7 linked regions of the Homo sapiens genome follow. The protein of the gene in region 1 interacts with the protein of each later gene in a biochemical or structural test. Each region holds a gene or a part of one and is shown on either strand. Other genes may lie near its edges. The genes, in order: APBB1, DDX17, CYFIP2, CPSF6, APLP1, CHERP and TSHZ1.

What was found.
Region 2: the proteins of APBB1 (region 1) and DDX17 form a complex in vitro, tested with the Homo sapiens proteins (one study listed by BioGRID).
Region 3: the proteins of APBB1 (region 1) and CYFIP2 form a complex in vitro, tested with the Homo sapiens proteins (one study listed by BioGRID).
Region 4: the proteins of APBB1 (region 1) and CPSF6 form a complex in vitro, tested with the Homo sapiens proteins (one study listed by BioGRID).
Region 5: the proteins of APBB1 (region 1) and APLP1 form a complex in vitro, tested with the Homo sapiens proteins (one study listed by BioGRID).
Region 6: the proteins of APBB1 (region 1) and CHERP form a complex in vitro, tested with the Homo sapiens proteins (one study listed by BioGRID).
Region 7: the proteins of APBB1 (region 1) and TSHZ1 form a complex in vitro, tested with the Homo sapiens proteins (one study listed by BioGRID).

The regions. Positions count from the first base shown.
Region 1 is NC_000011.10:6,408,533-6,412,762, reverse strand, and holds part of APBB1 (amyloid beta precursor protein binding family B member 1), read left to right. Parts: intron 1-1,401; 5' UTR 1,402-1,415; coding exon 1,416-2,136; intron 2,137-4,230. UniProt on the Homo sapiens protein: Transcription coregulator that can have both coactivator and corepressor functions. Adapter protein that forms a transcriptionally active complex with the gamma-secretase-derived amyloid precursor protein (APP) intracellular domain.
Region 2 is NC_000022.11:38,485,748-38,489,664, reverse strand, and holds part of DDX17 (probable ATP-dependent RNA helicase DDX17 isoform 1 precursor), read left to right. Parts: intron 1-1,549; coding exon 1,550-1,786; coding exon of another isoform or gene 1,787-1,792; intron 1,793-3,224; coding exon 3,225-3,730; 3' UTR 3,731-3,917. UniProt on the Homo sapiens protein: As an RNA helicase, unwinds RNA and alters RNA structures through ATP binding and hydrolysis.
Region 3 is NC_000005.10:157,320,908-157,325,137, forward strand, and holds part of CYFIP2 (cytoplasmic FMR1-interacting protein 2), read left to right. Parts: intron 1-2,034; coding exon of another isoform or gene 2,035-2,109; intron 2,110-3,013; coding exon 3,014-3,167; intron 3,168-4,230. UniProt on the Homo sapiens protein: Involved in T-cell adhesion and p53/TP53-dependent induction of apoptosis. Does not bind RNA. As component of the WAVE1 complex, required for BDNF-NTRK2 endocytic trafficking and signaling from early endosomes.
Region 4 is NC_000012.12:69,270,015-69,275,034, reverse strand, and holds the end of CPSF6 (cleavage and polyadenylation specificity factor subunit 6), read right to left. Parts: 3' UTR 677-5,020; downstream 1-676. UniProt on the Homo sapiens protein: Component of the cleavage factor Im (CFIm) complex that functions as an activator of the pre-mRNA 3'-end cleavage and polyadenylation processing required for the maturation of pre-mRNA into functional mRNAs.
Region 5 is NC_000019.10:35,871,091-35,875,320, forward strand, and holds part of APLP1 (amyloid beta precursor like protein 1 isoform 1 precursor), read left to right. Parts: intron 1-146; coding exon 147-259; intron 260-521; coding exon 522-655; intron 656-767; coding exon 768-946; intron 947-1,392; coding exon 1,393-1,523; intron 1,524-2,548; coding exon 2,549-2,623; intron 2,624-3,413; coding exon 3,414-3,572; intron 3,573-3,650; coding exon 3,651-3,779; intron 3,780-4,230. UniProt on the Homo sapiens protein: May play a role in postsynaptic function. The C-terminal gamma-secretase processed fragment, ALID1, activates transcription activation through APBB1 (Fe65) binding. Couples to JIP signal transduction through C-terminal binding.
Region 6 is NC_000019.10:16,535,581-16,539,810, reverse strand, and holds part of CHERP (calcium homeostasis endoplasmic reticulum protein), read left to right. Parts: intron 1-4,174; coding exon 4,175-4,230. UniProt on the Homo sapiens protein: Involved in calcium homeostasis, growth and proliferation.
Region 7 is NC_000018.10:75,283,373-75,287,426, reverse strand, and holds part of TSHZ1 (teashirt homolog 1), read right to left. Parts: intron 1,980-4,054; coding exon 1-1,979. UniProt on the Homo sapiens protein: Probable transcriptional regulator involved in developmental processes. May act as a transcriptional repressor.

The sequences.
Region 1 (4,230 bases):
ACTGATTCATACATTCATTCAGCAAATATTAATGGAGTTCCTGCTCTGTGCCAGGACTACGCTAGGCACTAGGCATACTGTATTTAACCAAAAAGGCAAAATCCTCACCAACATGGAAATTATAAATTATAGTCATGAGGAGACAATCATTAGACAAAGTAAATAATAAATTGGCTTGTCAGATGGTGACAGGCGCTGGGGAAGAGTTTAGGGATTGCTGAGGAGGGGCGGAGGTAGCCTGTGGTTTTAAAATGGGTGTTCAGGGAAGGCTTCACTGAGGCTGTGACATTTGGTCAAAGATCTGAAAGGCTGGGCCGGACGCAGTGGCTCATGCCTGTAATCCCAGCACTTTGGGAGGCCGAAGTGGGCGGATCACGAGGTCAGGAGTTTGAGATCAGCCTGACCAACATGGTGAAGCCCCGTCTCTACTAAAAATACAAAAATTACCTGGGCGTGGTGGTGGGCACCTGTAATCACAGCTACTCAGGAGGCTGAGGCAGGAGAATCACTTGAACCCGAGAGGCAGAGGTTGCAGTGAGCCAAGATTGTGCCATTGCACTCCAGCCTGGGCAACAAGAGCAAGATTCTGTCTCAAAAACAAACAAACAGACAAACAACCCCCAAAAAACAAAGATCTGAAAGGCTGAGGGGCCCAGGGGAAAGGCTCCCATAGTGATCCAGGACAGGGCATTATGAGGGCTGGCAGAGGGACCAGTGCCCAAGGGGAGCTACTTCATGGAAATTGTCACCAAGATGTAGCTTCATCTGGCCAGAGAAGCCATGAATTGCAGCCGAGCGCCCTCCCTCTGTGACCTGCCTTCCAGTGCCATGCCCTGTAGGGCTGGTTCTGCAGCTTATTTGCTCCTGTCCTCACAGTCCCTAGTATGGGGTGGGCTTGGGGGCTGGTTGAGCTGAGTGATTTATGGGAATAGGAACACAGCCGGAGGAGCTTACAGTGATGGGGCTTGGGATGGAAGTGCGGCCGGAGAGGGGCAGTCAGTGATCAGTGTCCAAAACACACGAGCCGGTCCCACTCTAGTGGTGTTCCTGGCACAGTAAGCCCCGGGTGGATGAGCTGGGGGGTGGGGAGGCACAGAGAGCCATTGTGTGGAGGCCTTGCTGGTGGGACCGAGGGCAGGCGCCAGCTGTGCCATCCCAGAAAGCTCAGGGCAGGGGATATAGGGATGGGGTGGGCCTCAGACCTGGGCCTGGACTGTGATGGGGATGATAGTGCTGGGACAGAAGTTGAACCCAGTCATTCTCATAGGATAGAGAGCCATGGGTGCTAGCCTGCTTAGTGCAGGGAGATGAGGAGGCACAGGGCATAGCCCTGGGGCAGAAGCAGTGATGCTGCTGTTCTGGACCAGAGGCTCAACAGCATCTCCCCTCCGCACCCCACAGGAGCTGCCAAGGCCATGTCTGTTCCATCATCACTGAGCCAGTCGGCCATTAATGCCAACAGCCACGGAGGCCCCGCACTGAGCCTACCCCTGCCTCTGCACGCTGCCCACAACCAGCTGCTCAACGCCAAGCTGCAGGCCACAGCTGTGGGACCCAAGGACCTGCGCAGCGCCATGGGGGAGGGTGGTGGGCCTGAGCCAGGCCCTGCCAATGCCAAGTGGCTAAAAGAGGGCCAGAACCAGCTCCGGCGGGCCGCCACGGCCCACCGTGACCAGAATCGCAATGTGACCTTGACCTTGGCGGAGGAGGCCAGCCAGGAGCCTGAGATGGCACCCTTGGGCCCCAAAGGCCTGATACACCTGTACTCTGAGCTGGAGCTCTCAGCTCACAACGCAGCCAACCGAGGCCTACGAGGACCTGGCCTGATCATCAGCACTCAAGAGCAGGGGCCAGATGAGGGAGAGGAGAAGGCGGCCGGGGAGGCCGAGGAGGAGGAGGAGGATGATGATGATGAAGAGGAGGAGGAGGACTTATCTTCTCCCCCAGGGCTGCCTGAGCCCCTGGAGAGTGTGGAGGCCCCTCCCAGGCCCCAAGCCCTTACAGATGGCCCCCGGGAACACAGCAAGAGTGCCAGCCTCCTGTTTGGCATGCGGAACAGTGCAGCCAGTGATGAGGACTCAAGCTGGGCTACCTTATCCCAGGGCAGCCCCTCCTATGGCTCCCCAGAGGACACAGGTACCTTGTGGAGCTTGACATGGGCATGTGGGAGGGTGTGAGGGCAGAGGTTAGGACTCTCATACAGAGGCCAGTGCCAGCCTGATGTGAGCTGAGAGCCCATACCCTGAGGCCACAGCAGGCCATGTCCAGGCTTTTTCATTCAGAGAGTGCTTGGACATTCTGGTAGATCTGACCATCATGCATGCCCGGATGGATGGATCTATTCATTATGCATGCCACCATGGTTGATAAGTGGACTAGTTTACTGGGCACTGACTAGGTAACTGGCCCTCTGCTCAGCATTTTCAGGCTTTATCCTTACAATAAAGCTGTGAGGTAAATATTATGATGATTCCCATATTACAGATAACAAAAAAGAGATCCAGAGAGGTTTAGTAGCTTTCTCGAGACCACAGACAGGCTGAGATTACAATAGAGCTGAAATCTAAACCAGGTCTCAGTCCAGGCCTGAGCTCTTGGCCCCGTGTTATGCTGCCGCCAATGCATAGAGCACAATGCACTCAGGTGCACTTGGGACAGTCGGCCCCGTTTTTTTTTTTTTTGAGACAGAGTCTCACTCTGTCGCCAGTCTGCCCCGTTTTAACAGGTCACGCCTGTTGGGAGCAGCCAGCAGCTCCCCACAGAGGTCTGTTTGGAAAGACTGGGAATGTTGTGTGCTTATAATCCACATGCTCCAGCACCATTGCAAGGATACAGTTTTGTCAGGAGTAGGATATTGACTAAAAGTTAGAAAAGAAAACCCTTTGGGTAGGGGGAGGAGAATAGATACTAGGACTCCAGGGCTTAATCATTAAATATGTCCATTTAAATTAAGCTGAGTCTCCACATTTTCTAATGTCGTGTAGCGAATACAGGAAAAGCTGAGGAACAAAGAGTGGAGATAATGGGCTATAGTTACAACCAAAACCCTGGAGTTTTGTAGATGGAGGTCTAAGAAAGATTAGGAAAGACCCCTATCCTTACCAGGTGGCGGACACAATACCCATACCCCAAACTGTGCAATCTTTGTGGAGAACATGCAGTTCAGATGAGCCTAGGGCTGCACACCATCCCCTTTCGAAAAACTCATTCTGGACATTTTCAAACATACACAAAAATAGAGAGAAAAGAATAATGAGCCTGATTTACCCACGAGCCAGTTTTACCAATTATCAATACATAACTAATCTTGCTACCTGCATGCTCTCTTCCGTTCCTAGGCCCAGCGTAGGTTATTCTGAAGCAAATACTTTTATCTATAAATGTTTACAGCTGGGTGCAGTGGCTCACACCTGTAATCCCAGCATTTTAGAAGGCTAAAATGGGTAGATTGCTTGAGCCCAAGAGTTCAAGACCAGTCTGAGCAACATGGCAAAACCTCTCCTCTATAAAAAAGACAAAAAAATTAGCCGGGAGTGGAGGCATCAGCCACTGTGGTCTCAGCTACTCAGGTGACTGACCTGAGAGGATCATCCGAACCCAAGAAAGTCGAGACTACAGTGAGCCATGATTGAGCCACTGCATTCCAGCCTGGATGGCAGAGAGAGACCCTTTCTCAACAACAACAACAACAGTTTACTTTTGCATTTCTGAAAGATAAAACTCTTAAAAAAAAAACCCACCACAATATCATTATTGTACCTACAAAAATTTAATAATAATTCTTTAATATCATTAAATATCCTGCCAAAAAAAGGCTGGATTGAGCCTGGGCACAGTGGCTCACGCCTGTAATCCCAGCATTTTGAAAGGCTAAGGTGGGTGGATTGCTTGAGGCCAGGAGTTCAGAAACAGCCTGGTTAACATGGTGAAACCCTGTCTCTACAAAAAACACAAACATTGGCTGGGCATGGTGGCTTATGCCTGTAATCCCAGCACTTTGGGAGGCCGAGGCAGGTGGATCACGTGAGGTCAGGAGTTCGAGATCAGCCTGGCCAACATGGTGAAACCTTGTCTCTACTAAAAATACAAAATTAGCTGGGCGTGGTTACAAACGCCTGTAATCCCAGCTACTCGGGAGGTTGAGGCAGGAGAATCACTTGAACCCGGGAGACAGAGGTTGTGGTGAGCTGAGATAGAGCCATTGTACTCCAGCCTGGGCAATAAGAGCGA
Region 2 (3,917 bases), on another chromosome or scaffold:
CTTCTTCACAAGCCCTGTAACAACAGCTAATTTTTTTTTTTTAATCTCCCCTTTCTCCCTTGAAATTAATCCAGTCTGGGCAATAGATGCAGTCTGACCCTTTGGATGTAACTTACATTTTTTTTTATTAATTATTTTTTTCTACAATCACCCCAATTATCCTTGGGGGAGGCGTTGGAGGACCTGAAATTTTTACCCGAACCCAGGTTCTCCGGCGCTTGGCAACCAAATGGGGCTACAGAGAAGCATCTAAGCCAGTTCACAGAGCGAGCGTGTGTGGGGACTTCTCACTGCCACGGACCCTTGATGCATGCTCCCCGCGCTCCAGTGGTCCCGTGTCAGAAGGCGGAGTTTTCGAAAGGAGGCCGCCAAAAATAAAAGGCAAAGAGACGGGATCGGCTGCAGCGGTTTCCCAAAGGAGGAGGGAGTGTGCATCGGTCTGGTAACAAACAGAGAATGTTTTTTAATTATTTATATCACAAAAATCTGTGTTTTATCTAGGATATTTTCTGAATATTCTTTGTAAAATGCAGATTTTTTTCCACAAAACAGTAGGATTCTTTGTTATATTCTTAAAATTGTTTGTTTAAGTAGGTAAAAATATACATTCAGCTGAAAGCATTACACTAACATTTACATTTTAAGCCTTAGGAGGTTATTCAGCCCAATTCCCAGCAGTAGAGAGAATACTAAACTTGTGTCTCAAGGTTTCATGGTTTTCCCACGTTCTTTGGCTATTAATTTAATTTCCCAGGTCACGTAGACAATCATTGATAATTGAAACAAGTCCTGAGTTGAAATAACCTTGAGTTGAGCAAAAATATCCTCATTTTGGCAGAAGCTGGGCTTGGTAGTACAGTAAAATTTTAGTGTAATGTGCTCTTGTAATTGAAAGGGGATAGATAATCTGGATGTTTCTGCAAAGGAAAATAGGTGTGTACTTAACAGCTTTGGCTCTACTCAGTTTCTTAAAAAGATAAGAGCAAAAAAAGTTAAATGTTAATCAAAACATTTAAGTTTCCTTTAAATTGTAGTAATAAAATATATGAAGCTCCTTTTTTTACTTTGCTCTGTGACTGGTTTAAAGGTAAGTTTGTTATGTTGTTGGTAGATTTTGCCAGGCTTCTCCCAACAGAGTAGAAGTGATTTGGCCTCATAACTTCACAGTGGTTTACCACTTTGTTCTATGTTCTGGTTTTGTAAAGGATAGTACTGGAATTTGCGTCTGAAGACCAATATTGGTGTAACTCCTGTCAGTATATTGGTAAAATGTAGCAGAGGCAGGAGTTTGGATGTTTGGATGGGATTCCCTTAGGATTCTACAGCCAATAAAGATCCTATTTCCTATGCATGTCCCAGGAATCAGTAATCCTCTTTTACTCTGTTGGGATGAGTCTTTTTTTGTTTCTGTTCAGAGTGGTTACTAACTTCACCTTCTTTCCTCTTGCTGTCATCTGCATTCGTGCTTCCCACCTGTTGTTGGCATGTCCTTTACCTTCTCTTTCCCTGCCACATCAACCTACACACTGACTCATCATTGACGTGGAAGATGTGGAAGATGTCAAGTTTGTGATCAACTATGACTATCCAAACAGCTCAGAGGATTATGTGCACCGTATTGGCCGAACAGCCCGTAGCACCAACAAGGGTACCGCCTATACCTTCTTCACCCCAGGGAACCTAAAACAGGCCAGAGAGCTTATCAAAGTGCTGGAAGAGGCCAATCAGGCTATCAATCCAAAACTGATGCAGCTTGTGGACCACAGAGGAGGCGGCGGAGGCGGGGGTAAGGGTAAGTCCTGGAGTTTTCCAGGTACTGCCAAGGTATCTCTTTACGCCTTCTGTGACTTGCTTTTAGTTGCTGTTTTTAAGAAGGCTGTAAGTATGTTGCTTAATAGCAAAGGACACTGCCTAATGCTTTTTATAACCTTTTTCAACTAAGAAAACGTGAAGTTTGTTGTGATAGTCCTATTAGTTAAGCTAAATTGTGAATTTTTTTTTCTTAGAGACTGGTCTGAGGTTTGGTTTTGTTTGTTTGTTTGTTTTGAGACGGAGTCTTGCTCTGTCGCCCAGGCTGAAGTGCAATGGCGCGATCTCAGCTCATTGCAACCTCTGCCTCCCAGGTTCAAGTGATTCTCCTGCCTCAGCCTCCCAAGTAGCTGGGATTACAGGCACCCGCCAGCACACCCTGCTAATTTTTGTATTTTTAGTAGAGGTGGAGTTTCACCATGTTGGCCTGGCTGGTCTCGAACTCCTGACCTCTGGTGATCCACCTGTCTTGGCCTCCCAAAGTGCTGAGATTACAGGAGTGAGCCACCAAACCTAGCTGAGGCTGGTCTGTGGAGTTTCACCATGTTGGCCTGGCTGGTCTCGAACTCCTGACCTCTGGTGATCCACCTGTCTTGGCCTCCCAAAGTGCTGAGATTACAGGAGTGAGCCACCAAACCTAGCTGAGGCTGGTCTGAGTTTTAATGTGGTTGCTTTGGCGGGGCGGGGGCAGAGACAGTCTCACTCTGTTGCCCAGACTGGAGTGCAGTGGCACGATCTCGGCTCACTTCAACCTCTGCCTCCTGGGTTCAAGTGATTCTCCTGCTTCAGCCTCCCAAGTAGCTGGTACTACAGGTATGTGCCACCATGTCCAGCTAATTTTTGTATTTTTTGTAGAGACAGGGTTTCACCATGTTGGCTGGTCTTGAACTGCTGACCTCAAGTGACCCTCCTGCCTTGATCTCCCAAAGTGCTGGGATTACGAGAGTGAGCCAGTGTGCCCCCGGTCATGGTTGCTTTTTTAATACTTTCAAAAATGCTTAGTAGTATATTAGGTTTCCAGTTTTCCATACGGAGAGGTCAGTCATTTTACACTGTTTAGTGGTGGGTAGAAACTGAGACATAGCAGTTGCATCTACAGTTGCAGAATATCCTAGGATCTGGGCTTCCTGACTCAAGGTTTCATATTGTAATACCGTGTTTCTTGATCATCCTCAAGTAAGGGGCCTAAAAGGGTGAAAAGGTCTAGTGTCCTTTAATTTTTACTGTGCTTTTGAATGTGCCCCATTAAAGAATCAAATTATGAGTATATTTTTACAGTACTAATTGGGAGGCTGGCCAGCATAACTAAATATCAAGGAGACATGTTTAATACTTTTGTACCCAGTAGAATTTTTACATTGTTATGTTTAGGTCCTATATCTGCCATTAAAAATCTTCTTGTATCTTCCCATTAGGTGGTCGTTCTCGTTACCGGACCACTTCTTCAGCCAACAATCCCAATCTGATGTATCAGGATGAGTGTGACCGAAGGCTTCGAGGAGTCAAGGATGGTGGCCGGAGAGACTCTGCAAGCTATCGGGATCGTAGTGAAACCGATAGAGCTGGTTATGCTAATGGCAGTGGCTATGGAAGTCCAAATTCTGCCTTTGGAGCACAAGCAGGCCAATACACCTATGGTCAAGGCACCTATGGGGCAGCTGCTTATGGCACCAGTAGCTATACAGCTCAAGAATATGGTGCTGGCACTTATGGAGCTAGTAGCACCACCTCAACTGGGAGAAGTTCACAGAGCTCTAGCCAGCAGTTTAGTGGGATAGGCCGGTCTGGGCAGCAGCCACAGCCACTGATGTCACAACAGTTTGCACAGCCTCCGGGAGCTACCAATATGATAGGTTACATGGGGCAGACTGCCTACCAATACCCTCCTCCTCCTCCCCCTCCTCCTCCTTCACGTAAATGAAACCACTCAAGTGGTAGTGACTCCAGCAGACTTAATTACATTTTAAGGAACACTGTCTTTCCTTTTTTTTTCCTCTTCGCCTTTTCTTTTTTTTTCCTTTTTTCTTTTTTTTTTTTTAATTTTTCCCCCCAACCATCGTGATTTGTCTTTTCATGCAGATTAGTTAGAATTCACTGCCAGGTTTCTT
Region 3 (4,230 bases), on another chromosome or scaffold:
AGGAGGGGCAGGGTTGAGTGGCTGCTCCGGTCTTATTCTGCCATCTTGTTTTGATATAGGAAGGAGGACCACTGGCTTAAGATTCAGGAGACCTGGATTCTAGTCCTAGATACCTGTGTGACCTCGGGCACTTTACAGATCTCTCTGTGCCTCAGTTGTTTAAACTGGCTAATGGGGATAATACCACCACATCCACCTTGCCTGGCTATCTTCTAGTCCTATGAAGTATAGATTCCAAAGTGGAGGAGGAGGTTAAAGTGGAATCTATCTGCATGCATCTATGCTGCCCCTCTTTAATAAGTCCTGGCCCTTTCCCCTAAAAGTTCTGCCTCTGACTTGCTGTGTGATCTTGGGCAAGCACCTTGAGCTTTCTGAGCTCTGATTATCTTCTCTGTAAAATGAAAACTTTGGATGAGATTGTGTTACTAACAAAATATTCCTTAGTTCCACATCCTTCCAAAAGTGCAAGTATTGAAAGCCCTTGTCCCCTTAGAGGAAGTCTAGTATTTGGAAACACTCAGAGTTGCCAGCCAGAGCTTCTGCACAAGAGGTCGCCCGTGGCTTATCCAGAGCAGTCATAACGTTACAGAAAAAAAAGTCAATAATCTGGGCATCTTCGTTAAATCCCTGCTACCTACTTAAGGATAGGTAGTTTCTGGTAATATTTTTGATGTACTGGAAAAAGCAGATGGTTCTCATTGCAAGTTTAAGGGTCTCACAGGCCTCACTTCCCATGACCTTTAAGCCTCTCTCTGTTCTCAGTCACCCAAGATGGACCATCTGAGGCCCACCCCCGACCCTTCTCCCTGTGTGTGCGTCTGTGTCTGTGCTGGGGGCTGGGGCAGGGGAGAGGTGGGTTCTCGGCAGGGTCATCTTAACTCCCCTTGGCTTCACAGCCCTCTGCTAGTTTGCACCAATCTCACCGGCTGGTTGTAGAACGCCCCAAGGAAGCGTCTGCAAACAGTTCTGTGTAATATCAAGGGTTGAGGTCCGGGAGACACTGAGCAGGGCTTTCAAGTGTTTCTGTAAATTTTAAGACATGAGTGAGCAAGAGACAGACAAGGCACAAAAGACACTGGAAAGGAGGAGGAGGGGACTTAACAGGCAGAGAGAAAAGGAGAGGAGAGGAAGGAGTATTTGTGTAGATAATGTGAGAGGGGTGGGTCACCAGCAGTAAATCCCGCCTCACCCCCAACCTCTACCAGGTCATGCTAGGTGGCACAGACATGTTGAATAGACTCGTAGACAACCAGAGCTGGGAGCGCTATTAGAGAAACCTAGGCCCTCCCCCTCTCTTGCGGATGGGGAAACTGAGGTCTAGAGAGGGGAAGTGACTTGTCCAAGTCACAAGGTGAGTCCCAGGTGGAGGTGGGACAAGAACCCAGGTCTCCTGACACCCACCCAGGGCTCTGGTACGGTCTTCAGGACACAGTAGACATGGGCATCTTGCATAGTTGGGATAGAGACTGTTTTGGTGAATTAAATGCTCTGTTAAGTAAAAGTACGTGGGAAAAAAGTTCACCTTCTTATGGGTGAAACCAGTTTTCAGAGAATTAGAGTTGGATATCAACTGGACAGCACCCACAACAGATTAGACTTGGATTCTTCCTTTGAGGACTTGAGAGGCCGTCATGAGAAGAGTGCTTCTCGGCTCCTAGGGATGGTGAGACAGGCCCTCCAACAGGGCTGCAGATGGGGGACTGTCTGAGGCACTGACGGCCACTGTGGCTGCTTTCCCACAAAGGAAGCCCTGTGGCAGGGATGGTGGGTCACACGTTTCTGTGGCTGCTCTACCCGCATCAGTGCCAGGCATGTGATGGGGGAGATCCCAGGGAAGCTCCAGAGGCAGCGAAGACGAACGCGGTTGCTGGGAGGTTGGAGTGTCTCAGAGGTGGCCCCCGGCAGTCGCGGCGGCTTTCCCACCGTATACAATACCTCTTGCTTTTCTCTCTCTCTCTCTCTTTCTCTCTCTCCCTCTTCCCTGTCTCTCCTGCCCTCCCATTCCCTCTTCCTTCTCTCCTATCTATGTCTTAGGCCTGCCAGTGGTCCCCGAGGGCTTTGTTTCACCCCACTGGTGGCACACAGGGCCGAAGAGGCTGCCGATCCCTGGTATCACACCGCCTGGCTGGGTTGGTTTGGGTACCCTTCTCGAGGAGGCAGCAGGAATGGACTAGCCTGGCTCCTCAAGGCCCCTTCCAGCCCTAAGATTCACAGACAAATGATGTGGAGAGATCTAGATTAGCAAAGAGAACCACCCCACCGCACTTGCATCCTTTGCACTTAAGGCACCCTGTAAGCGGGAGTTAATTGTCTAGTAGCCTCCTGTGTAAGTACCAATGTTAACCCGCCTTCCACCCTGAACTTCAGCAGGCTGTGCAGTGCAGCTGATGCCACCAAGGGGGCGCCATCGCTCAGCCATGGGGTCAAAACGCTGAGGGTCAGGAACAGGTGTGGGAGGGGGTTCGTTCTGATCTTATCCCATTTCTCAGTTCCTCAGAATGTTAGTGCTGAAAGGGACTGGTGTGAGAAGGCATCTGGTCCAACCCCCTCATGTTACATGAGACAACTGAGGCCCAGAGTGGGGGCTTTGTTGCCTAAGGTCACACAGCAAATCAGCAGCAGTGCCTGGCCTTGAACCCCGGTCTTTTGACTCCCAGTCCAGTGCTCCACCCATGGCATCTGTGGCCCTCTGGGAAAGCAGGGAGTGACTCCAGGGTGACACGTAATGAGGTTCTCCTCTGATATACACGCCCTTGGCCAAGCAGAGCAGGGAGCTACCTGGTGTGGCCAGGTCCACTGGCCCAGGGATGCCACGGGGCCCGGGTTGGCCATGAAGGTTTTCACAGTTCCACATTTATTTCTCAAACCTTAAACTGGTGCTTCCTTAGGACAGTGCTTTTTAAGAGCAGACATCTGCAGAAAAAAAAAAATACATAAATACAACATGAAGCAACCTTTTTCCCCGGGGTAGAGGGCCAGCTTCTGACCTTCTCATCTTGCTTTCTTTTTCAAGCTGTACATGGTGCGGACCATGCTTGAATCACTCATTGCAGACAAAAGCGGCTCCAAGAAGACCCTGAGGAGCAGCCTGGATGGACCCATTGTCCTCGCCATAGAGGACTTTCACAAACAGTCCTTCTTCTTCACACATCTGCTCAACATCAGTGGTGAGCTGCATCCCATCCCTGCTAAGGCATGGGAGGAGGGGATGAGGGCTCTCAGAGCCGCTAAGACCACCAAGCCAGGCATTGCAAAGGGACGTGACCGTTGACCCTAAGGGGCACATATCACCACCAAGGAAAAAACACATACACTTTCCAGTGGGCTTTTGGAGCTAGGAAAGGCCAGGTTCAACTCAGCTGTTCTGACTTAGCTAAATTTGTCCAGGAGATACTTGTGGCTAATTTGTCATAAAGTCCTTAGTAGAGCGGGATCAAAAACAAGAATACGTACATACAGACACACGGATGCTAGACTTTTGCTACTCAGCCGCAACCAAGCGCTAATTAGTACTTGCTGCTGCCAGCAGGGGAGGCTCTCGAGCTGCATCCCAGTCCTGTGTTCTTCACACTTCCTCTCCTTTTAGTAAGATGTATGTCCAGAGCAGAGGAAGAGTAGTATCTCAGGAACATGAGTCTTCATATGTCTGCTGGCATTGACAAGAGTGATTGTAACAAACAGTACAAACTTCTCCATTAGAGAGTAGCCCGGGAAGGGCCTTCAAGGTCTCTAAACTGTATGGGATCTGGCAATTATCACACGCGAGGAGTCAAGGAGCCACAATCCAGTTGAAAGTGGGCACTCGGGGGCCTGTCTTGACACTGTGTTTGTATAATGAACACACTTTTTTTTTTTTTTTTGAGACGGAGTCTTGCTCTGTTGCCCAGGTTGGAGTGCAGTGGCACTATCTCAGCTCACCGCAACCTCCGCTTCCCAGGTTCAGGCTGGAGTGCAGTCGTGTGATCTCAGCTCACCGCAACCTCTGCCACCCAGGTTCAAAGAATCCTTCTGCTTCAGCCTCCCGAGTAGCTGGGATTACAGACATGCACCACTGTGCCCGGCTAATTATTTATTTTTTTAATTTATTATTATTATTATTTTTTGGTATTTTTAGTAGAGACGGGGTTTCGCCATGTTGGCCAGGCTGGGCTCAAACTCCTGACCTCAAGTGATCTGCCTGCCTCAGCCTCCCAAAGTGCTGGTATTATAGGCATGAGCCTCTGCGCCCGG
Region 4 (5,020 bases), on another chromosome or scaffold:
GTTAAATGACCTCACAGGGTAGGGACGAGAGTCTCAACTAATTCAACACAAATAGGGATTGATCAATGGAAACATACAACAAACAGTAACAGGAAATCTAACAAAAATCTGAACCACAATTTTAGTGGAGGCATGGAAAGGGATCCCAGTGATGGTAGTATTATTTCTCATGTTCATATTCACTTGTTTAGAACTGTTACCTTTAATACTCTGAAGCTTGCAGGTAAGAAATCTGAGGCCTGATATTAATACCTGGCACAGAAATATCTACTGAAATCACTGAAACTGAAGTCTGTTACTGTTTCAAAAGTACCCCATAATGTTTCCAAGCTAACCAGTAAAATATTTTTGCTACAAACATTTTTACTTAAGTCTAGTAAGGTTAATGATCCTCTAAAACTAGACAAATGCTTTCTGAATCTTCCATTTAAAAACCATGTAACAGCCTGGAAATCTGTCAGGCCTCTTAATCCTAATTTTAGCCCAATTATCAGTCGCTTTAAAGAGCACCAAAATGTCAATACACAAGAAAACCACCACTATCTGGCTTAAAGATAGAATACAGACAACAGTCCAATTTCTGCTATACTGCATATTGCCAATAAACATTAACTACTTAAAACCATACACAATGGTTACCAAATAACAAATTAAACAAAAAAGACAAACTGCAAAGTCTTATCAAAAGTTTGTTTTATTTTCAATACAAGATAAATACCATGCTTGTTACTAGTGCAGTTTAAGGCCGACAATGGCCATATATCAAACTGCCGAACAGTCACCTAAATGCTAAAGAAAGGAAAGACAAAGTAAACATTAAACACAAAATTGCAATTACAAACATTTTAATAAAATGGAATGAGCTTTTTAATTGAAGCTAATATGAAGTCTAATTCTCATGGACAGCAAAAAAAAAAAAAAAAAAGTCTATTAGATCAATTATCACCTTACCTTTTTGCACAGAAATCTTATTGTGAAGTCACCATAGAGTCAATAGCTAAAATTTTAAGACTTTCTTTGGCCTTCTGATATTAAACAAATTATTTACAAACTGTGATCAGTAATTCGTGGATATTGGTAAAATGATACAATTTTTTGTTGTTGTTGTTAAGGGCTTTCCATTAAAAATTGTAAAACAACTTTGTAAGGCTGTACAGGGCTGTAAACTACTTTGCTAATATACCATGGGATGCAGAGGAAGGAATAATAGACCTTTTTTTTAAGGCTAAAGTTATCAATGTTATAGATGCATTCCTTAAAATACATTATGATTTATACCCAAAGGATCCTTTCCCATTAAATACCACCTGAGTACTACAATTTTCAAAGTAAAAAAATAAACATGAATTCACCATAGTTATTTTAAAATAATTTAACTTACAGAATGTTGAGAAGTGTTACGCAGTAACAGTGCGACAAAAAGAACACACTTTCAAAACAAAATGTTTTCGCTAAATGCAGGGTCTGTCCAATTATGAAATTAATGTAAAACATTTACACCCATGGCAGAGTTTTAGGATACTCCCACGTGAAAAAAACTCTTGGTAGTATTTACTATGCAGTTACCACTTCAAGATGTGTGTGACTTCAATTAAATTCAACCTAGTATTTAAAAGACTCCATTACAATATGTTAATACAGCAGGAAGTCTTTAAAGACATTAAAATCTGTCGTATATAATCAAGTATTTATACGTCCCATACAAAAACCATAGTAGCTGCATACTCAGTGAATGCCACAACCTGAAATTCTAAAAAAAGAACATTGGTTAAGACAAACCTAAATCAATCTGAACAGTGTTGCCTGAATATTTAGAATATTCACAAAAATTCATATTGCTTCTTTCTAATGCCAAGAAAGAAGAGTATAAGAACTTCCTCCCAGAAGCCTAGACATTTTAATACATTTTCTATTTCAACTTACAATGAAACTTTAATCCTGAATCTTGATTTATCTAAATCAAAAATCTCACATTACGAACACAAGGAATGCCATATGTAAGGCCACATCTTAATAAATTTATAATTTTTGGTTGAATATTTATTGAAAAAATCAGTCTAAGGCTTCTAAGAGTCAAGTTGCTTAAAAAAATAAATACACCAGTGTTTAAACTGAAGTTAAGGTTAAAAAAACGCATACACACACACACACACACACACACACACTGTAAGAACAGAAAAATAGAATGCTTTGCTACAAAAATCCCACTTAATATATTTTAGCACAAAAATGTCTAATATACACTGGATAAGCGTGCATTTACGTACATACAACTAGGGGAAACATTTACAGAGGGCTACGGGATGCAAATGAACTTAATGAGTAATAAAAACCAGTTGTTATCTGTAAAACAGAGAATCTCAATACTGTATTCTCAGTCAAGAATTAGAACATAAACTTCCTCTTAAGCTGAAGCTTAAAACACAAAATTGGAGCCATTTTAGAAAATACAGAAAATGCAATGATCATTCAGGTATGAAAACCAAAATGTCGAGAGCACTCCAACAGAAAAGTCTTGTAATGCATCTCATTGTATAAAACAGTATGTATTTAGATTGGCACAGTTAAATACATAAGGGAAAGAGAAAGTCTTTGCCCTTTCCACAATTTTCCTTCACTATAAAATATTATACAACATTCATTAAAACCTCCATGTTTATTTTAATAACTGACCTGAAACTAGTAAAAAATAAAGCAATATTCTCCACAGGAGAATTAAATGAAAATAGTATCTTAAGCTACAAGTTATCTGTGTATTCCAAATTGTCATTAACTGCTTAAGAACATTCTAGGTAAAAGGACCATTAAATGGGCTAAACTATGATCAAAAGCCACTGCAACTTACTCCAAACCTTATGAAAAGTGACAAAAAAAAAAAACACACATCTGCAAATTTACACTGGAATATGCTTTCCACAACATAGTTCCTTTAACCAAAAGCAGCACTTTCAATCCAAAGTGTTGCCTCAGAAGCAGTACCATTCAGGTACTGTATCACTCATCTGTTTAACTTTACTACTGGCTGAAAGGAATGTGACTGTATAGCACTAATAAATGCTATGTTTTAAAATTCAACTCGTTTGTTTTCACATCCACTACAGTTATTAACTAAGGAAAAAATGAAAAGGTCTCTGAGACACTGTTTTTGGTGTCTATGCAAGGATTTATCTCTTTGGATTGTTTTTACACATTAAAAAAAGGAAGAGTTTTCAAATAACATTAACCCATAAACAACTGAAGGGGGTATGAAGAACAAAACAAGGCCTGCAATTTTCACCTTTACTGCTATACATTCACGTGTTATCAGGTAGAGAAGGACTTTGCAAAATTACTTGGTCAAACCAAGAAGTTATTTCCTTCTGACAACACTTAAAATAACGGATTAGCAGCAAACAAATCTAGTACACTCACACTGTCTGTAACGAAAGTCATGTAATGAGATCAGCCAAGCAAGGAGAAGAGTGATATAGAAGGAGCAATTAAAAGGTTCCATTGATAAAATATGAAAAGGTAAATAAAGGATTTAATTAGTATAAAATTTCCAGTTTCATTTCAAGTGCAGTTAGATTTTTGTGATTCCATTTTTAAACTGTTCAAAGAAAATTTTATTTTCATGGACATTTTACTTACCTTTTAACCCTTTACTATTAACTAATTTCTCTTGTAATATTTATATGTCCATACTTCTTCGCATTAGGGCATTGTAGTCAAAATATTAAAAAGCCAAGAAATGACACAACAATATACAGAAAACAGGAAAATTTTGATACAACTCTAAAATAATGTTAAAAAAGCAACCGCATTTTCAACAAAATGCTTTAAAAAATCATTTCTGAAAGTGAACAGTTCTGATAAACATCAACGATCCCATGCACAGATACTTCAAACACAAAATATTTTAAAATAAAACTGGCAGTGATATGGGTAATTCAAAACAGCTAATTTTGTCAGAAGTGGTTTGATAGCAGACAAGATGAAAGTGAAGAACAGCAGTGGAAATTTCTGGAGGGTTTCTACAGTTGCACATAACACAGTATCTAGGGTATTTTAACACTTTAAGCATTGTCCTAGAATTTGGGTACTCTTTAACAACCAATGTGTATTAACAGAAGATCTCTCAAAGATAATCAGATCTTAAAAACATATTAACGTGCTCAAGAATTTTAAGTCAAATTTCTGAAGTAGTGATTTCAAATTACATTCCCATAAAAACACCTAATCAAGTTGACACCCTGCCTCTGCCAATTTTGCAATCAAGAACACATGCTAGTCAGGTGCTTTTAAAGTGGGCCTATATGTAAGGCAGGTTTGAAAAAAATCTTTGATTAAGTAACTATAGCATGAATCAATACGGTGCATGAATATACATAGTATTCCTTAAACTGTGCAGACACGGTTTATCTGTAATTTCCCATTACAAATACTGGGGAATACAACCGAATGTTAATGAACATCACATCCTTCAAAAATTTATACCAATTGGAAAATATAAGGCTCTCTTTACTCACATTTACCTGCTGCAGGGCTGTATTTACACTGACTATGGCTTAAGAAATAAACCATAAGATCAATAAAAACAGCAAGTAATTGCAGCATCAAATCGGAATTGTCAAAATTTCTTCAATGTTAGCGGTTCACAATTAAGTGTTTCGGTACATCTGTGTTGTAATTAACCTGCATTACACATCAAATATGTACGGGTTTTTACTTATGTGTTAAAACCTCTGTTTTTTTGACCCCTTACACATTGACTAGATTGCTATGTCTGTCAAATCTCTATTTTTACAAGTTTACATACCATTCAGCAAAGTCACAAGCTAACTAGGTAAAAACAGCTAGAAAAGCAGAATATAGAAATATTAAATATCCATGTAATCACCTATTCTAATATCAAAATCAAGGGCAAAAGACACTTAATTACTATGTTTAATTCACTGAACGCAAGATTAGATTGAGGCATATCCAAAAACGCTATTGCAATGCTTTAAAGGACAGTAAAAATGTTGTCATAGTAACATTA
Region 5 (4,230 bases), on another chromosome or scaffold:
CCCTCTCTCAGGCCTACATTAAGGGGCTGGGTGCTTGTGTCCTAAGTGGGGCAGAGAAGCCTCTGAGGATAAAATATCTGGATTCTGAGGAGGGTGGGGTTGGTGGCTATAGGAGGATCTCACCCTGGTGTCCCGTGCTTCCCCAGCTGGTGAATTTGTGAGTGAGGCCCTGCTGGTGCCTGAAGGCTGCCGGTTCTTGCACCAGGAGCGCATGGACCAATGTGAGAGTTCAACCCGGAGGCATCAGGAGGCACAGGAGGTCAGGACGTTGGCCCACCCGTCCCCAGCCCCCACAACCCAGGAACTGGGACCTCTAACACCCTCCGCCACCAGAACCGAGGAGTCTGGGCCACCAGCATCCTCTTCGCACTTGGGATCTAAGAATTTCATCCCCCAACCCCTTCCTCTAGAAGCAGGAATCCAGGCTCCCAGCCTCATCAACCCCCAACCCTGGCAGCCCAGTTCCCCATCTACCCCCTCCCATCCCACAATCCTGGCATCTGGGCCCACTCTTCCTACAGGCCTGCAGCTCCCAGGGCCTCATCCTGCACGGCTCGGGCATGCTCTTACCCTGTGGCTCGGATCGGTTCCGTGGTGTGGAGTATGTGTGCTGTCCCCCTCCAGGGACCCCCGACCCATCTGGGACAGCAGTTGGGTGAGTGGGAGGGAACCCTCCATGCCCATCTCAAGGTTCCTGAGGCAGGGGATGGAAGCCTGGGAGCCCAGGCCTGGGTTCTTACTGCCTGGGTCCTCTCCTGCTCCCTCAGTGACCCCTCCACCCGGTCCTGGCCCCCGGGGAGCAGAGTAGAGGGGGCTGAGGACGAGGAAGAGGAGGAATCCTTCCCACAGCCAGTAGATGATTACTTCGTGGAGCCTCCGCAGGCTGAAGAGGAAGAGGAAACGGTCCCACCCCCAAGCTCCCATACACTTGCAGTGGTCGGCAAAGGTGAGGCAGTCTCTGAACCCCTGGGGCCTCTCCACCATAGAGGGAGAAAGATCTGGGGGAGTCTTGCTGGGGGGTGTCTTTGGGAGGGGCCTATAGGGGAAAGGCCCAACTGAGGAGAAAAGACGAGAGTATCTTTGGATAAAATAGAAGTAGAAGGGCTAACCTGCCAAGGGAGGGGGTGGTTTGGGGGTACTTGGGAGTAGAGGGGCCATTGGGTAGGTCTTGAGGATCATTTCAGGAAAGCTTGGAAGATGGTGTAATGGATTCCTAAGCTTTGCAAGAACAGGCCCAGTCCAGAACTACATCTCCCATAATGCCAGGCAGCAGCGGTGGCTAAACTGGGTGCATGATGGTCTCCAGTGCACTCTAGGAAATGTGGTTCTCTAGGTAGAAAAGGCGACCTGGAGGTGGGCTGCAGACTGACCTCCTGATCCCTGGTCTTGCAGTCACTCCCACCCCGAGGCCCACAGACGGTGTGGATATTTACTTTGGCATGCCTGGGGAAATCAGTGAGCACGAGGGGTTCCTGAGGGCCAAGATGGACCTGGAGGAGCGTAGGATGCGCCAGATTAATGAGGTGATAATACTGGGGGCCCCAGGACCCCCTACAGTACAGAGCTCCCTAAATACCAGGAAATTCCTCCAGGACACATTGATACTACCTCCAAAGGCTCCCTAAGCCCCTTTGACCTTGAGCTCTCAACACCACCCCCTAAGATGGCCAGAGATCCATGGCCCTTCTAGAATCCCACTGAGACGCTACCAGGTTCTCTGGAAACTCTGGTCTATGGTACTCTTTCACTTTATTGGTTTTTTTTTTTTTCTTTTGTTGTTGTTGTTGTGACGGAGTTTCGCTCTTAACACCCAGGCTGGAGTGCAATGGTGCGATCTCGGCCCACTGCAACCTCTGCCTCCCGGGCTCCAGCGATTCCCCTTCCTCAGTCTCCTGAGTAGCTGGGATTACAGGCACCCACCACCACGCCCGGCTAATTTTTGTATTTTTAGTAGAGACAGGGTTTCACCATGTTGGCCAGGATGGTCTTGAACTCCCGGCGGGAGGAGATCCACCCGCCTCGGCCTCCCAAAGTGCTGGGATTACAGGCATGAGCCACCACGCCTGGCCTCTCTTTCACTTTAAACTCCTTCTGGATCTTCCCTCTTGGGAACCCAGGAGCCAGCGAGACTTAAGGGATCTGGGGCCTTTAAATCTTTTTTTTTTTTTTTTTTTGAGACAGAGTTTCGCTCTGTTGCCCAGGCTAGAGTGCAGTGACGTGATCTCCCACTCACTGCAAGCTCCACCTCCTGGGTTCACGCCATTCTCCTGCCTCAGCCTCCCGAGTAGCTGGGACTACTGGTACCCACCACAGCGCCCAGATAATTTTTTCTGTTTTCAGTAGAGACAGGGTTTCACCATGTTAGCCAGGATGGCCTCAATCTCCTGACCTTGTGATCCACCCACCTCGGCCTCCCAAAGTGCTGGGATTACAGGCATGAGCCACTGCGCCCAGCCATGGGGCTTCTAAAATCTTAAAGAGGGGTTGGGGGACTTGCCAGGTGGATCAGGGTGGATTCTGGGATCCTGAAGCTCCCCTCCCTATGCAGGTGATGCGTGAATGGGCCATGGCAGACAACCAGTCCAAGAACCTGCCTAAAGCCGACAGACAGGCCCTGAATGAGGTAGGACAGCCCCAGTGGGTCCTACTCATGCCTGTCCACCACCTGGAGCACACTCAGTTTCACCTGGCTCTGGCTGTGCCCTGCCCATCCAGTTCCACCCCTTCCCACCTATCTCAGCCTTTCCTGGCCCCATGCCTACATGCAGCTCTGCCCCTCTTAGCCGTCATCTGACCTGACACTGCTCTCCTCCCCAGATTGGCCATATTCGGCCCCATCTACAGACTTGACTTGCCTCTCAGGGCTGGCTCTGGAGTCCTGTCCCAAGCCAGGGCCTCTGCAGATGCAGCCAGGGCCTTCTTGGTCTCTCTTTGATGCATTTATGTCTCTATCAGGCCCCGCCCCCTGATTCTGGCTCTGCTGGGCCAATCTCACCTTTATTAACCTGACCTACCCCATGGAGACCCCACTCATGTTAGCCCCCATTCCAGCTCTTTGTCCCACCCCTATCGTGTCATTTATACACAGCCTGTCTCCAGTTTGACCCTGCCCAGGCCAGGAGCCCTGCAAGGCTTTGTCCCTTTCACCTTAACATTGGTCAGTTCTGCTCCCAGATTGCTCCCACTCAATCTTACAGTTTACATCCTCACATTGGCTCCCAGTGGGCCTAGTCCCACCTCCACTCTGCCTGGCCCTGTAGCCCACCCCTTCCAGTCCATAACCTTTGGTTCTGCCCAGGCCTGGACCCCTGGAACGCCCCCCAACCCCATGTAGCCCTGCCTTTCCAGGCTCTCTTTGACCAGGCTTTGACCCATCTTCTCCTCTCCTGACCCTGTGCCCACCCGCTCCCCAGCACTTCCAGTCCATTCTGCAGACTCTGGAGGAGCAGGTGTCTGGTGAGCGACAGCGCCTGGTGGAAACCCACGCCACCCGCGTCATCGCCCTTATCAACGACCAGCGCCGGGCTGCCTTGGAGGGCTTCCTGGCAGCCCTGCAGGCAGATCCGCCTCAGGTGCGGGGACCGTGGGGGCAGAGAGCAGAGGGTGAGAAGGGTCAGGGCGGGCTTGGGCATCCTGTGTCCCTTCCACAGGCGGAGCGTGTCCTGTTGGCCCTGCGGCGCTACCTGCGTGCGGAGCAGAAGGAACAGAGGCACACGCTGCGCCACTACCAGCATGTGGCCGCCGTGGATCCCGAGAAGGCACAGCAGATGCGCTTCCAGGTGCTCACATCCTTCCAGCTCCCAAATGCGCCGCTATTCCTCAGACGCCCGCGCCTCAGGCTCTTCTCTTGTCCCTTAGACCCTCTTTCTGTCTCTTGGACCCCTTCCTATCCCCTGAACACCGCTTCTCTGCCCCTTCCCAGTCTCTCAGCTCAGCTTCCTGACCCTGAAACATGGACCCTCACATGCTGTGTCTTTGACCCCTGCTTCTTGGCCCTTGGATTCCTACTCCCCCCGCCGTCGATCCTATGTTCTGTCCCTTGGATTTTCACTGCCTTTCCCAGAATCGTCTTTTTTTTTTTTTTTTTTTTGAGACAGGTTCTTGCTCTGTCGCCCAGGCAGGAGAGCAGTGTGCGATCTTGGCTCATTGCAACTTCCACCTCCTGGGTTCAAGCAATTCTCCTGCCTCAGCCTCTCGAGTAGCTGGGATTACAGGAGCCTGCCACCACAC
Region 6 (4,230 bases), on another chromosome or scaffold:
GGTGGTGAACTGGCCCAGGTCAGAAATGGAGCAGGTCGAAACTCCTGTGCCGATCAGTAGTGGCCTCACGCCTGTAAATAGCCACTGCACTCCAGCCTGGGTGACATAGTAGAGAATCTATTTAATAAAAGAATGTGCTTGTATGAGGGAAGAGTTTGACCTGGAGTGTTAACTGCCAGGGGAAAAGTTTGGGTTTTTTCACTCAATCCAGGGGTTTTTCTGATGCCTATTTAGGTTTGAGATGCGGGGGTGGGGTGGAGAGAGATCAGCTGCCTGAAATCGTAAGCAAAATATTGTATGTGCTTATGTGTTTCTAGAGCGATCCTTCCTTAGCCCCAGCACACCAAGTTTAAAACCGTTGCTAGGCCGGGCGCGGTGGCTCACGCCTGTAATCCCAGCACTTTGGGAGGCCGAGGCGGGCGGATCACGAGGTCAGGAGATCGAGACCATCCTGGCTAACACGGTGAAACCCCGTCTCTACTAAAAATACAAAAAATTAGCCAGGCGTGGTAGCGGGCGCCTGTAGTCCCAGCTACTTGGGAGGCTGAGGCAGGAGAATGGCGTGAACCTGGGAGGCAGAGCTTGCAGTGAGCCGAGATCGCACCACTGCACTCCAGCCTGGGCGACAGAGCGAGACTCCGTCTCAAAAAAAAAAAAAAAAAAACCGTTTCTAAAGGCAGCGGGAAGCCACAAGAGTTTTAAACAAGGGAGAGGGTGGCTTGGGTTGTGTGGCCGGTGGTGTAGGACAAGCTACAGGGACCAGCCTGGGGAGCAGTGAGGCCTGCAGGGGAGCAAACAGGGCAGTTGTTTAGGTGAGAGATGGTGGGGTCTGAATTAAGTCAGTAGGTTGAGCCTGAGGGAGGGAGCATGGGGGGCAGGTGGGGTGAAGGGGTAGAATCCATGAACTTGGGCGCCAGTTGCATATTGACGACCTGATGGTGTAATGAGCAGGGGAGGAAGACACCTCAGACGGTGCTTTGGCTTGGGTGACTGAGCTAAGGGCTGCTTTCCCTTTCTGGGGCGGGGGGGTGGCCACTTGGAAGCTGGTGCCATTATGAGGAAGGAGAGGGTGCTTATGCTTATAGCCCAGGAAGATTGAAGCCAAGAAGTGCTTTCTTTTTTTTTTGGAGATGGAGTCTTGCTCTTGTTGCCCAGGCTGGAGTACAGTGGCAAGATCTTGGCTCACTGCAACCTCTGCCTCCCAGATTCAAGCGATTCTCCTGCCTCAGCCTCCCAAGTAGCTGGGACTACAGGCGTGCGCCACCACACCCAGCTAATTTTTGTATTTTTAGTAGAGATGTGGTTTCACCATGTTGGCCAGGATGGTCTTGATCTCTTGAACTCATGATCCGCCCACCTTGGCTTCCCAAAGTGCTGGGATTACAGGCGTGAGCCATCGTACCCAGCCAAGAAGTGCTTTCTGTGGGTGATGATATCTTGGCTAGATGTAAAGGGTGTGTTGGAGTTGGCCAGGTGAAAACAAGGGGAGAAAAGTGTTCCGGGCAGAGGAAGGAGCCCTTGGAGGGAATGGGGAACCCAGAGCTTAGGGTGGCTGAAGCCCAGAGTAGGAGGGGTTCTTGGAGTGGCCAGAGGTGGGGGTGCAGAATTGGGAGCCTGGCTTGGGGAGGAGTTGGAGGCCTGGCTTGGGGAGGAGTCGGGGACCTGGCTTGGAGAGGAGTGAGGAGTGTATCCTGGAAGCGTGGGAGAGACTCGTGGAAGGTTTAGGTCTGTGTTGTGAAGCTGGGTTAGCCACAGTACAGCCAGTTCTGCACCCCACGCCTTAAAGCCTGGGCCTCAACTGTTGTAGAATGGAGCTTCACGAACTCTGTGGTGAAGGACCATTTCTGGTGTTGTGTTTTAAGTTTCTAACCTGTTGTGTGTGGACCAAAACTTCTGCAAAGCACAGTAACAATGTGGACCGTGAACCATCACGCTGCTAGAAAGGTTTTGAAATGCTCCCTTTCTGGTTCCATAACCGTCTGTCACCGCTGGGTAGCCCAGGGACCACTCCATAAGTGGCAATACCATGACTGCCATGTCAAAAAGAGGTAGAGGGATGGGACCTGATGCAGGAAGACCGGTTCTGGGGTGACGCAGGTGACAGCAGATCCATGGTGGTGACAGCGGGGACATAGACTGATTGGAGTGATGTCTCGGAGGCCGCCTTGACACTATGTGGCTCGTCACTGGGAGGCACATGCTACTTCTGGCCTGGGTTTCTGGGCAGATGGTGGTGCCAACCATGGTGCGGGGAGCACAGGAGGGGACATAGGTGTAGGGGGTGAGAGGAAACACAGGCCCCTTGGAAACACAGTGGGCCGTGCAGTTGGTGGTTAGGGCCAAAGCTCAGGAATCCAGAATGGAGATGATGGATTTAGGAATCACACCATGCACAATCGCAGCCACAGGAATGAGTAGCTCATGTTGCCCGGCGGTTGCGTAGAGCGGAGGACAGGGCTCAGAACACAGGCCGCGCACCCCAGCATGTGAGGGTCCAACGGGAGAGGGGTTGGTAAAGGGGGAGAAAGGGACTGAGGGGGCGAACACATGGAGGCCAAGGGAGGCAAGCACCTGCGACAGGCCCGGGGGGCTGAGTTGAGTGAGGGTGTCCTCAGCTGCCTGGGGGAAGGAGGGGGGTGCGGGGAGTGGCAAGCAGGCACCAGGCTGAGATAAAGGGGAGGTGAAGATCTGGAGTGAGTCTTGTCTGAGAAATCGTTTAGAGAGGGATCATGGGGTAAAGGGAGAAGTTTCCAACCCAGAATATTCTGATGTGTTTATTTATTTCCTTTTTTATTTTTTGAGATGGAGTCTCACTCTGTCACCCACACTGGAGTGCAGTGGCGCCATCTCGGCTCACTGCAACCTCCACCTTGCAAGCTCAAGCAATTCTCCTGCCTCAGCCTCTCAGGTAGCTGGGATTACAGGTGCCCGCCACCACGCCCGACTAATTTTTTGCATTTTCAGTAGAGACAGGGCCATGTTGGCCAGGCTGGTCTCGAACTCCTGACCTCAGGTGATCACCCGCCTTGTCCTCCCAAAGTGCTGGGATTATAGGCGTGAGCCATCATGCCCAGCCCAATGTGTTTAGATGCTGCTGGGGAGGGACGGGTAAAGAGGGAGGAGTTGGAGAAATAAGAGATAGAAGAAATATCAATAAGCAGTGTCCCTCAGACAGTGGGAGGGGTGGGATTCAGTGCAGAAGTTGGGGGTCATCCTGTAGGGTGGCTTTGGGTGCACAAACTGGAGGGCACAGTCAGCCCCGAGACTTGACTTGAGCGCCCAGTGAGGGGCGACACCTTCCACCTGACACCCCACCTCCCTTATCTTTGGCTTTGTCCTGGTCCCCTTGGAGTGGGGCTCTGGAGGGCTCCAGGGGTACCTGGTCACATTTAGACCAGGCGGCCCCAAGACGGAGAGAGAGGCAGGTCATCTTGTCCAGGGCCTCCTTATGAGCCGGGTCCCTTCCTCAGAGACCTCACCACCTGCCCCATCTGGCCAGAGTTGGGACCTGCGCCCACCCTGACCCAGGCTTCTGCCGGCAGAATGGGTGTCTCACTGCTGCCTCAAACTGGATGCACCCCTGAATGCAGAGGGGTCTCTGTCCCCAAGGGCTGGAGAAGCAAGGAGAGTCAGTAGAAGGACAAGGCAGGTGTGGGGGAGGCCGCAGTGTGCGCTCGGGGGTGCGGCTTCGTGCCTTTCTGGCCAGATGTGCAGAGGCCCGGTGGCTGTGACATCTTAACAGTCAATGGGTAGCTTAAGTGGCAGAGGTCAGGGAGTGGCCGAGGAGGTCGGAGGATGAGAGGTACTGAGGCCTGGGTTCTGCATCAGGTGGGGCCTAGGTGGGTGAGGAGGTGGGCAGGCAAGCTTAGCTTGCACCGGAAGGACACTGCGCAAGGACTGGATGGTGCTGGCGAGAGAGCGGCCAGGGGACTTCCTAGGTTCTCCGAGGAGGGGACGGCCCGAAGATGGAATGCTGAGGCTGGGATCCTGTGAGAGGGAGGGCAGGACCCGAGACTAGGAGGAGCTGGTTTGCGTGGGCATGAGGCTATGAACAGGCCCTCGTGGATGGTGAGTCCCTGGGGAGGGGGAGGCCCCTGTGGCTGAGAGGTGGCCAAGGGGACACCTAGACCCCCATCTGCATTCTCATGGGGCACCCCTCCTCCTCTCCCTCCAGTCATCTGCAAGCAGCAGACCCCGGAGCTGGAGCCAGCCGCCACCATGCCACCCCTG
Region 7 (4,054 bases), on another chromosome or scaffold:
TATGGGGGACGCAGCCTTGGCCAGGGAGCTCTTCTCCTTCTCAGGGGGTCTCTCCTCCTTCTTGATGTTGACCTTGCCCGTGACCTTCTCCACCAGCTCCTCCATGGCAGACACGTTGCTCTTGTGCGGTGGGGGCGTGAGGCTCCCTGGGGAGTGCAGGAGGGCGTTGTGCTCGGCGGAAGACAGCGACTTCACGCCGCCAGCATAGGACGGCTGCACCTGCACGCTCTGCACGGCCGCCGGCAGTGGCTTCACGGTGCCCGGGAGCTGGTAGGCTGCATGGATGCTGGGGTAGCCACCCCATGAGGGCGCACCATTCTGAGCTTTGCTAATGGCCGTGGAGACGGTATTCTCCAGGGACTTGAGAATGTCCAGCCCTCCCTTGGGGCTGTCGTCCAGGTCCTCCTCACGCAGGTACGGGTACAGGGTGCTGGGCTCAAATTTCTCCAAGCTGTCCTCACTCTCCTCCTTGATCTTCTCCGCGTCGCCAGCCACAGGCGGCTTCTCCTTCTCTGGCTCTTTCTTTTCTTCAGAAGTCGTGGACCCCGCGGGAGAGTCGGGCTGCTTTTTGATGCTGGAGGCCGGCAGCCGCGTGTGGGTGGTGGGCGGTAGTGGGATGGACTGGATCTTCTCTTCCACCACAGGGTCCAGCACCAACTGCTTGCCCTTCTTAGAAGCCGAGGTGGTCACTTTCAGGAAGTGCCCGGTGACCATCATGTGGGCGGTGAGCTGCTGCAGCGTGTCGTGGGAGCTGCCACACTCCATGCACTTGAGGATCTGCGCCTTGCGGGCCTCAAACTGCCAGGTGTAGCTGGCGCCATTCTGGTAGCCATAGCGGTTATTGGGCGTGACGTACGGGTTCGCTGCTTTCTGATCCTTGGCTGACTCACTCAGGGCCACCTCTGCGGCCATTCCTGCTGGCTCAGGGGAGCAGGGGGGCGCCAGGTCCTGAAGCGCCCGCTTTTTGGTGGAGGGGACCAGTTTGGTGATGGCTGGCACTGGCTCCTTCAGAGGCACTTTCTGGTAATGCTTGGTTTTGATCATGTGGACGCTGAGGTCCTGCAAGGACTCAAAGGAGTGTCCACAGTACATGCACTTCAGCACCTTCTGGGCATCCTCCTTCCCCTCCATCTCCATCAGGGAGCGCTTCCTGGGCTTGGACCACCTCTTGGTCTTCTCGGAGTCCTTGTCCCTGTTGTCGTCACGGTAGTGGCCTGTCTCGTTCATGTGCACCGTCAGTTCCACCAGCGTGTCGTACGCGGCACTGCAGTCTTTGCACCGGAACTTGCTGGCGCCCGTGAAGACGGAGCCGTAGAGCTTGTTGTTCTGGCGGTAGAGCTGCACGGTGCTGAACAGGCTGGGCTCAGGAAGCAGCCCATACGAGGACGTCTGCTGCAGCGTCTTGGCCAGTGCAGCCTGGTGCCAGTCGTACCCGGAGCTGCTGCTGGTACTGGTGGTACTGCTGTGGCTGGTGCTGGAGCTGCAGCTGGTGCTGGGCGTGCTCGTGGTGGGGCCAGTGGTGCTGACGGGGCAGGTGGGGGGTGTGGGGGTGGGGGCGGAGCTCTCCTTCTGGCTGGCATCGTTGGTGCTGGTGGTGGAACCCGACTTCTTTAAATCCAGAGCTAAGCTGGACCAGCAGGACTCGGAGAACAAGTTTGCATACACAGCTTTGATCTGTGCCAGGCTGTCCTGGGGGTACGAGACGCTGTCGGGACACTGCGGATCCTCCTTCTCTTCTCGAGAGGAAGAGCCTTTGAAATGGGCTAGCTGGTCGCTGCTCTCACTGAAGGGCGACCCGTAGCCGGCGTCCTGGTTAGTCGCAGAGCTGACTGGGGAGTTCTGGTAGCTCTGCGCCTCTTTGATCTCCGTCTCTTCATTGCACATGTACTCACTTTCCTGAATGTCCAAAGACAGCCCGTCATCCTCCACGTGCTCTTCATCTATTTCTGCTGCCTTCAATTCTTCCTCAGGAACATAAGCTAGGAGAGAAAAATGAAACCCAGTTAGAAGAAGTAAATCATCTTCAAAGAGACAGCCTCCCCAGCAGTTAGATGATCTTTAAAAAGATATTTGTCAGCCTAGCCCCCAGGACACAAGGCTACCCCAAGTTTACATATCTACCCCTTTGCAGGAGTTAGGTTTCAAAAGGTGCTGTCCCCTCCTGAGTGTGTCTTTAGCAAAGGGGACTGAGCTGGAGGATGATGTCCTGTGCTCGTCCCAAAGATGTCAGTTTGACCCTTGCAGCCTGGTGGGAAGGGCAGGAACTTGGGACTCCAGCCACCACCTGCCAAGTACCCCTCCTATAGGCTGTTCCCTCTGTAAGTGACCCAGGAGTCCCCTCATGACTTCCATATGGCAAATATTTGTAAACACCCATCGGGCAGGACCTGGTTATCAATTTTTAGAGCAGGATATTCACAGACAGTATATCGTTTCCATAAGTAAAAACACTCCTCAATGGCAAGCAATGAAAACACTCTGGTCTTCACCAAAAGCACCAACATGGCACCGCCAATCTCCTGCCTGGCAGAGCAAAGCGCCACCCGCATGGGGCTGCCAGACGGCAAAAGCCACGGTTGTTCACCAAGGCCCAGAGCAGCCTCATTGACTGCAGCCAAAAGCTGGAAGGCACCAAAAGGTCCAGTGACAGTTGGAGGGATGAACGCGGTGTGGCCCGTCCACACTCAGGCTTGGAAAGGGAGTTCTGACACGCACTGCAGCGCGGACGCACCTCGAGGGCATAGTGCTCGGTGAAGGCAGCCAGACACAAGAGGACATGTACTGCATGGCTCACCTCACGTGAGGGCCCTAGAGTTGCCACATTCATAGAAAAAGAAAGCAGAGTGGTGGCGTGTGCCAGGAGAAGGAGGGGATGGGGACAGAGTTTCCATCTGGGAAGACGAGAAAGTTCTGGAGATGGAGGGTGGTGATGGCTGCACATCAATATGAACGTTCTTAACGCCATGAAACTGTGCACTTAAAATGGTTAAAATGGTCACTTATACATTATAAATATTTTATCACAATAAAAGCTGTTTAATTACAAAAGCCCAACGGTCCACGCTCCAGCTGCCTACTACAGGCCCACGACTGCACAGCGGAGCGACTTCATGGGCTGAAGGCAGCGTTTCCCAGAGGGGCCTCCAGGATATGGAAGTTGTCCCATGGATGAGGCTGGAAGGCAGAGAAACCGAGATGAAACCTGGACTTGTGACTGCAGGACATGTCAGATCCTTCACTATGCAACACACCTTCCTAACTCCCAAGGGGAGACTACTGCAAGGAACACTGCCTCAGCTTCTTTGACCAAGGCACTTTTACTTACTTTTCCCGTCTCGAGGCAACAACTAGCTGGACTACAGTTCCATCAACAACTTGGGGTATTTGGGGTTCAGATATTTTGCAGAAAATCCCTATTAAAATGCATTCATCTGACCTGAGAGGGGTGTCTCATTAAATATCATCATTCATGATGACATCATCAGAGCCAGGGCCTGAGGGAACACGACAAGGAGCACAGACGTTTTCAGGGAGGACTGCTGGGAGGGACAGAAAACATCTTGGCCGCCCAAAGGGAGGATGCCAGGGGCAGCAGGGAGCAGTGTGAGAGCCTCAAAACCCGCAAATGCAGGGCTTCAGATTCTAGCAGCAGCCAGCACTCACAGGCACACGCATAATCACATGTGTACACACAAGCACACGCACACACACACACACAATGAGAGACGACTGAATCGGTCATGTGGAGAATCTTCTAGTTCAGGCCATCCCGAGTGCTTGCACACACTGCCCTTTTCTGCACACGACAATCTGCGCACCTGTGTTCACGCATTTCATGGAGGTATGTGGAAAAGCAGCAAAGCCAGGAATCACAATCCTGTTCACACTGTACTGTGAGTGTGGAAAATAACCAATCATGTAAGACCCCAGGCCTCAACTACGGGCATCAACATGTGGGGAATGTTCTAGATGATTCTATGACTCTCCCGTAAAATATAACGCTCATAAAATTAAAAGATAATTGCCAAGTTCAGGCACATTGTCATTAGCCTGT